Regions from separate parts of the Homo sapiens genome. Here all the other regions are linked to region 3. Evidence: fine-mapped expression QTL. A gene starts in region 3. Each other region holds a variant in brackets. All regions are shown on one strand. Distances are between the middles of the regions.

Region 1 (2,762 bases), 40 kb before region 3:
CTAGATTTTCTAATTTATTTGCATAGAGGTGTTTATAGTATTCTCTGATAGTAGTTTGTATTTCTGTAGGGTCAGTGGTAATATCCCCTTTATCATTTTTTATTGTCTATTTGATTCTTCTCTATTAGTCTAGCTAGCAGTCTATCTATTTTGTTAATTTTTTCAAAAAACCAGCTCCTGGATTCAATGATTTTTTGGAGGGCTTTTTTGCGTCTCTATCGCCTTCGATTCTTCTCTGATATTAGTTATTTCTTACCTTCCGCCAGCTTTTGGATTAGTTTGCTCTTGCCTCTCTAGCTCTTTTAATTGTGATGTTAGGGTGCTGATTTGAGATCTTTTTAGCTTTCTGATGTGGGCATTTAGTGCAAAATTTCCCTATTAACACTGCTTTAGCTGTGTCCCAGAAATTCTGGTACATTATCTCTTTGTTCTCATTGGTTTCAAAGAAATACTAGATTTCTGCCTTAATGTCATTATTTACCCAGGAGTCATCCAGGAGCAAGTTGTTCAATTTCCACGAAATTATGTGGTTTTGAATGAGTTTCTTAATCCTGAGTTCTAATGTGATTGCACTGTGGTCTGAGAGACTGTCTGTCATGATTTCAGTTCTTTTCCATTTGCTGAGGAGTGTTTTACTTCCAATTGTGTGGTTGATTTTAGAATAAGTGCCATGTGGCACTGAGAAGAATGTATATTCTGTTGATTTGGGGTAGAGAGTTCTGTAGACTTCTACTAAGTCCACTTGATCCAGATCTGAGTTCGAGTCCTGAATATCCTTGTTAATTTTCTGTCTCACTGACCTAATACTGACAGTGGGGTGTTAAAGTCTCCCCCTATTATTGTGTGGGAGTCTAAGTCTCTTTGCAGGTCTCTAAGAACTTATTTTATGAATCTGGGTGCTCCTGTATTGGGTGCATATATATACATTTAGAATAGTTAGTTCTTCTTGTTGAATTGTTCCCTTTACCATTATGTAATGCCCTTCTTTGTCTGTTTTTATTTTTGCTGGTTTAAAGTCTGTTTTGTCAGAGACTAGGATTGCAACTCCTGCTTTTTTTCTTTGCTTTCCATTTGCTTGGTAAATTTTCCTCCATCCCTTTATTTTGAGCCTGTGTGTGTCT[C/T]TGCATGTAAGATGGGTCTCCTGAATACAGCACACCAATGAGTCTTGACTCCTTATCCAATTTGCTAGTCTGTGTCTTTTAATTGGGGCATTTAGCCCATTTACATTTAAGGTTAATATTGTTATGTGTGAATTTGATCCTGTCATCATGATGCTATTTGGTTATTTTGTACATTAGTTGATGCAGTTTCTTTGTAGTGTCATTGGTCTTTATATTTTCATGTGTTTTTGCAGTGGCTAGTACCAGTTTTTCCTTACCATATTTAGTGCTTCTTTCAGGAGACATTGCAGGGCAGGCCTAGTGGTAACAAAATCCCTCAGCATTTGCTTGTCTGGAAAGGATTTTATAGAAAGCTTAGTTTGGCTAGATATAAAATTCTGGGTTGAAAATTCTTTTCTTTAAGAATGTTGAATATTGGCCCCCAATCTCTTCTGGCTTGTAGAGTTTCTGCTGAGAAGTCCATTGTCAGTCTGATGGGCTTCCCTTTGTAGGTGACCTAGCCTTTCTCTCTGGCTGCCCTTAGTTTTATCCTTCATTTCGACCTTGGAAAATCTGATGATTATGTGTCTTGGGGTTGATCGTCTCATAGAGTATCTTAATGGTGTTCCCAGTATTTCCTGAATTTGCAGGTTGGCCTGTCTTGGTAGTCTGGGGAAGTTCTCCTGGATAATACCCTGAAGTGTGTTTTCCAGCTTGTTTCCATTCTCCCCACCTCCTTCTGGTACTCCACTCAATCGTAGGTTCAGTCTTTTTATGAGGTCCCATATTTCTGGTAGGCTTTGTTCATTCTTTTTTCTCTATTCTTGTCTGCATGTCTTATTTCAGTAAGGTGGTCTTCAAACTCTGATATCCTTTCTCCTACTTGGTCGATTCAGCTGTTGATACTTGTTTATGCTTCACGATACTTGTGTGTGCTTCACAAAGTTCTCGTGCTGTGTTTTTCAGCTCCATCAGGTTGCTTATGTTCCTCTCTAAACTGGTTATTCTAGTTAGCAATTCCTCTAACCTTTTATCAAGGTTCTTAGCTTCTTTGAATTAGGTTAGAACATGCTCCTTTAGCTCATTGTAGTTTTTTATAACCCATCTTCTGAAGCCTACTTCTGTCAATTCATCCATCTGATCCTCCGTCCAGTTCTGTGCCCTTGATGGAGAGATGTTGTAATCATTTGGAGGAGAAGAGGTACTCTGGCCTTTTGGGTTTTCAGCATTTTTTCATTCTTTCTCATCTTCATGAGTTTGTCTAGTTTCAGTCTTTGAGGCTGCTACCCTTGGATGAGATTTTTGTGGGGACCTTTTATTTGATTGTTGTTGTTGATGCTGTTGTTGTCACTTTCTGCTTGTTTTTCTTTCAGTAGTCCAGTCCCTCTTCTGTAGGGCTGCTGCAGTTTGCTGGTGGTTCACCTTCAGGCCTTATTCATCTGATTCGCTCCCATGCCTGGAGATGTCATTAAGGATGCTGGAGAGCAGCAAAGATGGGTGCCTACTCCTTCTTCTGGGACCTCTGACCTCAAGGGGCACCAACCTGATGCCAGTAGGATCACTCCTGCAGAGGGTATCTGACAAGCCCTGTTGAAGGGTCTCACCCAGTTGGGTGACACAGGGAGCAGGACCCGTTTAATGGAGCACTCTGTCCCTTGGTGG
Region 2 (2,762 bases), 98 kb before region 3:
CAATCTCTTGACCTTGTGATCTGTCCACCTGGGCCCCCCCAAAGTGCTGGGATTACAGGAGTGAGCCATCTCGCCTGGCCTCCTCCTAAAATTTGTCTCCTGCTCTAGTCTGTACTACAAGAGCCACTGCCCTGAAAACACCTTTGTTTGAGAATTCCTTCTGCCTCTTTCTGTTTCCAAGATCCCAAACCTCCCCCTTTCTTGGTTTACTCCCTCACTTTGGTGGGACATATTCTCCATAAGTTTCCTAGAAGTGACATGTGAAAGTATTTTCAGTAGAGACGAGGTTTCACCGTGTTGGCCAGGCTGGTCTTGAACTCCTGACCTCAAGTGATCCACCTGCCTTAGACTCCCAAAGTGCTGGGATTACAGGCATGAGCCACCACGCCCGGCCCAAACATCTTTATTCTATCCTTAATTAATAATTAGTGGAGGAACACCTTCAAAATTCTGAGGGAAAATTATTTTCAAAGAAGTCTATGTTCAGTCTGTTTTCTAACTTCACGTGTTGCTGTTAAGAAATACAATGTCATTCTGATTCCAAGATCCTTCGTGTGACTCTTTTTTAAATCCGGGAAGTGCATAGATACTTCCTTTATGCTAATGTTCTAATATGTCATGACAATGAACTTTGATGTAGTAAATTGTTTTGATGTGGTTAATTTTTCTGCATTGCCCCCTAGTCCCTTGGTATAAAATTTTTCTTCTTCAGATTTAAGTTTTCCCTTTCTTCCCTGGAATTCCCAATAGGGAAATATCTGAATAACCATTGTTCTTCTGTCCAATAAAACTTTCTGCACTACATCTTCCTTGTCTAATAAGGTATCCACTGGCCACATGTGGCTACTGAGCACTCAAAATGTGGCTAGTGTGAGACAAACTGAATTTTACATTTTACTTAATCTTAGTTAAGCTTAAATACTCATGTACAGCTGGTGGCTACCATATTAGGACAGCACAAATCCAAAGACTATGCCAAAAATTTTTTAAAATACGAAAATCAGGGCCTTTAGCACCAACTCTCAGGTGGTATTCAATTTGTTTTCAGAAGAAAAAATTGAGTATAATTTCCAAATCCCACCATTACTATTTTCATAATAAGGTTCTGTGATTTCATTCCTTATGGCGTCCTTCCTTCCTCACAGGAACTCAAGGGCCTTGTAGAATGGTTATCACACAAGTGGAAAGGTCCCTTTGTGCATAAACATGGATTTTATTGCCCCTGAAGTATAAACAGTACTCCTTCAAGTACTCCTCCTTTTTTCCCCTTAGGGGAGCTGCTGAGGTTCCTCACGGAACAGTAACATGTATTATAAGAGAAGCAAGTATTAAAAAACACCTAAAATGAACAAGGCCACTGAAGGCAACTTCCTTATATGGCAAGCCGACTACTCCCCGTGTCTTTCCGCAAGCTGTGGTAAGAAACGCTGCTTCTGTATACTGGATGCTCTGGGTAGGGCAGAAGCCAGAACGGCAGCCAGGGCATTCTCCTTGCATGTTTCACTCATTCCATAAATACCACAGATATA[G/A]CAAACTGTCGTCCAAGCATTCTAGTGCCAAGGACATAGACAGAAAGTAGAATAAAACCAAAGTGCAAAAGTTCTGTATACCCACTTCAAAGTACATGAGCCTCCTGTTCCATTCGAATGACTGGAAACCACTTTTCATTAGAGCTTAGTGCCTAGAATACAGTGGGCATGTAATAGGTGTGTACTTAAAACAAATACAGAGCAAGATCAAAACCCAAAGGCAATCACTGATTTTTTTTTTTTCTGCTTTGAAGAAAAACAGACATATTAATGCTGTATATATTGAGAAATAAATATTCAGGAAAAATCTTTCATTTTTCTATGTAAAGATTCATGGAGAAATACATTTTCTTAGTCTACTCTTCAGGCAAGTCATTGAATATCCATTAGTTCCTATAAAATATGGAATCTTATTAAGCTTGTAGATTTTACAAGTTCAGGGTAAAAGTATGAGCCACTGAAATAAGGAGAAAAAGAGACATTAAAGTCACACAAACTTGATTTCCTCTTTAATGTCTTATGAGGCTTGATAAACAATATTTCATGCTTGTACAACTGGCAAAATCAGTACTTCTAAACAAAAAACAAGCCCACAGGAAATTTTAACAAGCTATCAGCTGCATAATATGTTTGTAAGCACTTATTATTATTTAAATTACAGCAAAAGATTAAATTTTATTTAGTGGCATGAAACTAATCTTTAGTGAGAGAAAGAAAAAGAATCACATTTAAAGATGATACATTAAAGTATTAAGGTAATATGATCTTTCCAATTCAGCAAATTGTCAATTAACAGCAATTCAAATCTGTCCCCGTAGATACAACTCTGAACTTTATGAAGATAATCCTCACGTAATACCAATCAGTTTTTTGTTCAGAGATGACATAGCGCATCTTGAGGTAGAAAAGAATCCTAATTAATCTCTTCCTCATGTCCCAAAGCACTGTCTCCACATTTTGCAATGAGGATGAAGCTTAATTTTAAATCTAATTGTCAAGCACTTTATTTATTCACTGTAGTTATGATAAAAGTTTCTGAACATCATATGGTCCTGGTACTCACGTTTCAGTTTCCATCATTTGCAAAACACTTCTGACTCCCTCCTCACCTGGAAAGGTCAACAGTACTGTCTTCAATTTCATTTAACAAAACAGCCAGCAAATCCCTTCAGGAAAGCAATTAAATATGCTCAAACAAATTCAACTATTCACTTACATAAGTATCTGAAAACC
Region 3 (2,762 bases):
GCAGCTGGCTGGGGGAACACGAGGCCTTGCAGGGAGCGAGCCCCGGCCCCGGTCTGACGGAACACAGGCGACGCACGTGAAGTCCAGGCCCTATCCCAGCGCAGGCGGGCCTCCAGCGACCCACAGTTGTCACATATCCGGCCAGCGCCGACTCCCGAAGGCGCACTCCCCATACTCCACTCCGAGCACCGGTCCCATCGTTAGGGAAGGTCCCCCTGGATAGCAAGGCCGGGGCCCAGGATCTGCGAGACCCACCCCACCCGCCCCGTCAGAGCCCAGGAGCAGCAACAGGTCTGCGCTCTCCCCGGGCGGCGCTCTGCAGACCCTCGACGGGCCAAGGGTGCCCCCAGCCCAGCCGTGCGCTCAGGCCGGGGAGATGGGCGGAGGACTGGGGCTCCCGACTTCCTTGACAGTTTCTGCGCGTCAGAAACTGAGCAGACACGGGGCCCGCGCCACCTCGCCCGCCGCTTGCCCCACTCCGCGAGGCTGCGCTTCCACCCGGGTCCGGGAGGGCCGGCCCGCGTCCCGGGTATGAATGGGGCTCTTCTCCCCAACAGCGGGGAAATCCCGCCACCGCCCTCCACCCCGGTCCCCGGAGCCCGCGGTGGCGCAGGTTTGCCCAGCAAGCCCCTGAATCGGCAGACAAAGGGGCACCGGAGGAAAAGCCGAGCGCTTCCCTAAACTTACCGGCCACTTCCCCCTCCCCAAAACAAAGGAGCCCCCCGCCGACCTCCGTCTCTCCCCGCAAGGCGCGCCGGCACTTCGGGGAGCGGCCACCTCGGGGTATTGTTCAGGCTCCTGGGAGCGCGCCGCACCCCAGTCCGAGCGCCGCGGGGACAGTTGGCGACCTGCACCTACAGGAGTTCCAGGGGCGGGTGGAGCGTTCGGGCGCCCCGAGCCGCCGGCCGGACCCTGGAGGGTCAGCGCGGGACCCGCCTCCCCGCAGAAGTTTGCGGACCCCGCGCCCGGCCCGCCGAGCCCTGCGCACTCACCTCGTCGCGAGCAGCGCAACTTGTGGCGGCGCCGCGCGCCCGGCCGCGCTCCGAACCTCCCTCCAGCCGGCAGCCTCCGAGTCCCGGCCGTGCGGCGGCCGAAGAGGGCCCGGCGCCCCGGAGCAGCCGCGCGCCGCCCCCGGGCCGCCCCCGCCCCGCCGCCGCCGAGTCCCGGAGAGAGCGCGGGCGCTGGAAAGTTTCGGTGGCGAATGGCGGCCTGAGGGCGCTGCGGCGGCGGCGGGGCGGGGGCGCTGGCGGCTCCTCGCTCCCAAGCGCGGAGTGGGGGCGCTGAGGCGGGCGCGGCGGCGGCGGCGGCGGCAGCGGGAGAGGGCGGGACAGCGGGAGGGACTGGCACGGACAGTGACCTCCACGGGGAGCTGCCGCGAGCGCGCGGACCCCAGCCAGGAGGACCGCCAGGGGTCCGCCCCCGCCGCCGGCCCCTCCCTCACGGCCGTGGGAGGGGACCCGGCGTACCACCCGGCCCCGCCCCTGCGCCCCGGGGGAGCCGCGTCCCGAACCAGCCCCTCCCCTACGAGGGTAGGGACTCCGGCCCTGCCCCTCCCCCGCGGCTCCTAGTGGGGACCCGCGTCCCAACCCAGCCCCTGTCCCACGGTCGGGGGACCAGCGTCCCTACCAAGCCCGCCCCGCTCCCCCACGCCTAGGGTGGGTGAGGGGAACCCGGGCCTCTCCCTAGTTGCTCTGGTCCCGGTCCCTTCCCCGTGGCCTCCGTGGGACTGAGAGGACCCCAGGGCTACCCCCATCACATCCCAAACCCAGCCTTTCCACGACTGCCTCGAGGGGACGGGAACCTCGGCCACCCCCTCAGTTTCTAGGGGGCAGGGGAACCTCGATCACTGCTAAAGTGTTACCCTCCCCCACCCCAAAAAGGAAGCCACCCGGCTGCCCCAACAGAACCCCCTGCCACCTGCCCGATGGTGAATCTCCCTCAAAATCGGCGTCTTAGAAGACACCCCAGTAGTCTTTACCCCAGCTCAAAAAGTGGGGGTTCCGGCGGAGCCTCGACCTTTGCAAAACACCTCCCAAGAAGAGCCAGAAATGCTTAGGGACAAACTCAGACACACAGGCATAGGCGCCAGGAACTCGGGTGTGGGGGCTGAGGAGGTTGGGGGGACCTGGGCACTCGGGCCTCATCACTCCCACCCCAACCCCCCAGGCATCAGCCCTCTGGCCCTTGCAAAGTGCTTTATGTTGCAATGGCTTACACGGCCTGGCCCCGGTGTACCTAAGTCCCCAGCGCTCCTTCCTCCCCTCCACGTAGGCTACTCCCAACCACTCGCAGCCTTAATTCAGTTAAACAGATCTCCACTCCCCCTCCCCAGCACCTCTGGGGTCAGCCTCGTTGAATATTTTTCAAATATTCTTGCCCCTTCCTTTACTATATAATGAGCTTCGTGCTAAGAGCCCGGTACACTCAGCAATCTAAACTATAACCTCACTTGCTCTTCCTCGAACTCTAGACCATTTGTTGTTCTGGTTGTAGGGGGAGGGGGACCTAAGGTGAGGTTTTTGTTTTTTTGTTTTTGTTTTTGTTTTTCTGAGGAGTCTCGCTCTGTCGCCCAAGCTGGAGTGCAGTGGCGCGCTGTCGGCTCATTGCAACCTCCACCACCCTGGTTCAAGCAATTCCCCTGCCTCAGCCTCCCGAGTAGCTGGGATTACAGGCGCATGCCACCACGCCCAGCTAATTTTTTTTGTATTTTTAGTAGAGACGGGGTTTCACCATATTGGCCAGACTGGTCTGAACTCCTGACC

Which allele goes with the higher level. Alleles are on the strand shown, and positions count from the first base shown. SD is a standard deviation of normalised expression in the study named.
With allele C in place of T in region 1, the expression in subcutaneous fat of the gene that starts at base 1,382 in region 3 is lower (small effect, 0.16 SD a copy in GTEx).
With allele A in place of G in region 2, the expression in fibroblasts of the gene that starts at base 1,382 in region 3 is higher (small effect, 0.14 SD a copy in GTEx).

The links. PIP is the estimated chance that this variant, and not a neighbour inherited with it, causes the effect. A credible set is the group of variants that fine-mapping cannot tell apart.
Region 1: its variant is the best candidate, but not a certain one, in a credible set for the expression of TBL1X in subcutaneous fat (GTEx, PIP 0.58).
Region 2: its variant is the best candidate, but not a certain one, in a credible set for the expression of TBL1X in fibroblasts (GTEx, PIP 0.72).

The regions. Positions count from the first base shown.
Region 1 is chrX:9,503,925-9,506,686 of GRCh38, reverse strand. The region is part of intron 2 of TBL1X (transducin beta like 1 X-linked); the gene reads right to left. Among named protein-coding and RNA genes, the nearest start is that of TBL1X, 40 kb to the right of the region's middle. RefSeq lists an enhancer at 2,586-2,762. The variant C/T (reference allele first, on the strand shown) is at 1,122.
Region 2 is chrX:9,561,770-9,564,531 of GRCh38, reverse strand. The region is part of intron 2 of TBL1X (transducin beta like 1 X-linked); the gene reads right to left. Among named protein-coding and RNA genes, the nearest start is that of TBL1X, 98 kb to the right of the region's middle. The variant G/A (reference allele first, on the strand shown) is at 1,530.
Region 3 is chrX:9,463,678-9,466,439 of GRCh38, reverse strand. TBL1X (transducin beta like 1 X-linked) reads right to left here and starts at 1,382. Exons shown (of 18, transcript NM_005647.4): 1 at 993-1,382. RefSeq lists silencers at 407-556, 857-996, 1,117-1,696 and enhancers at 1,927-2,126, 1,954-2,762.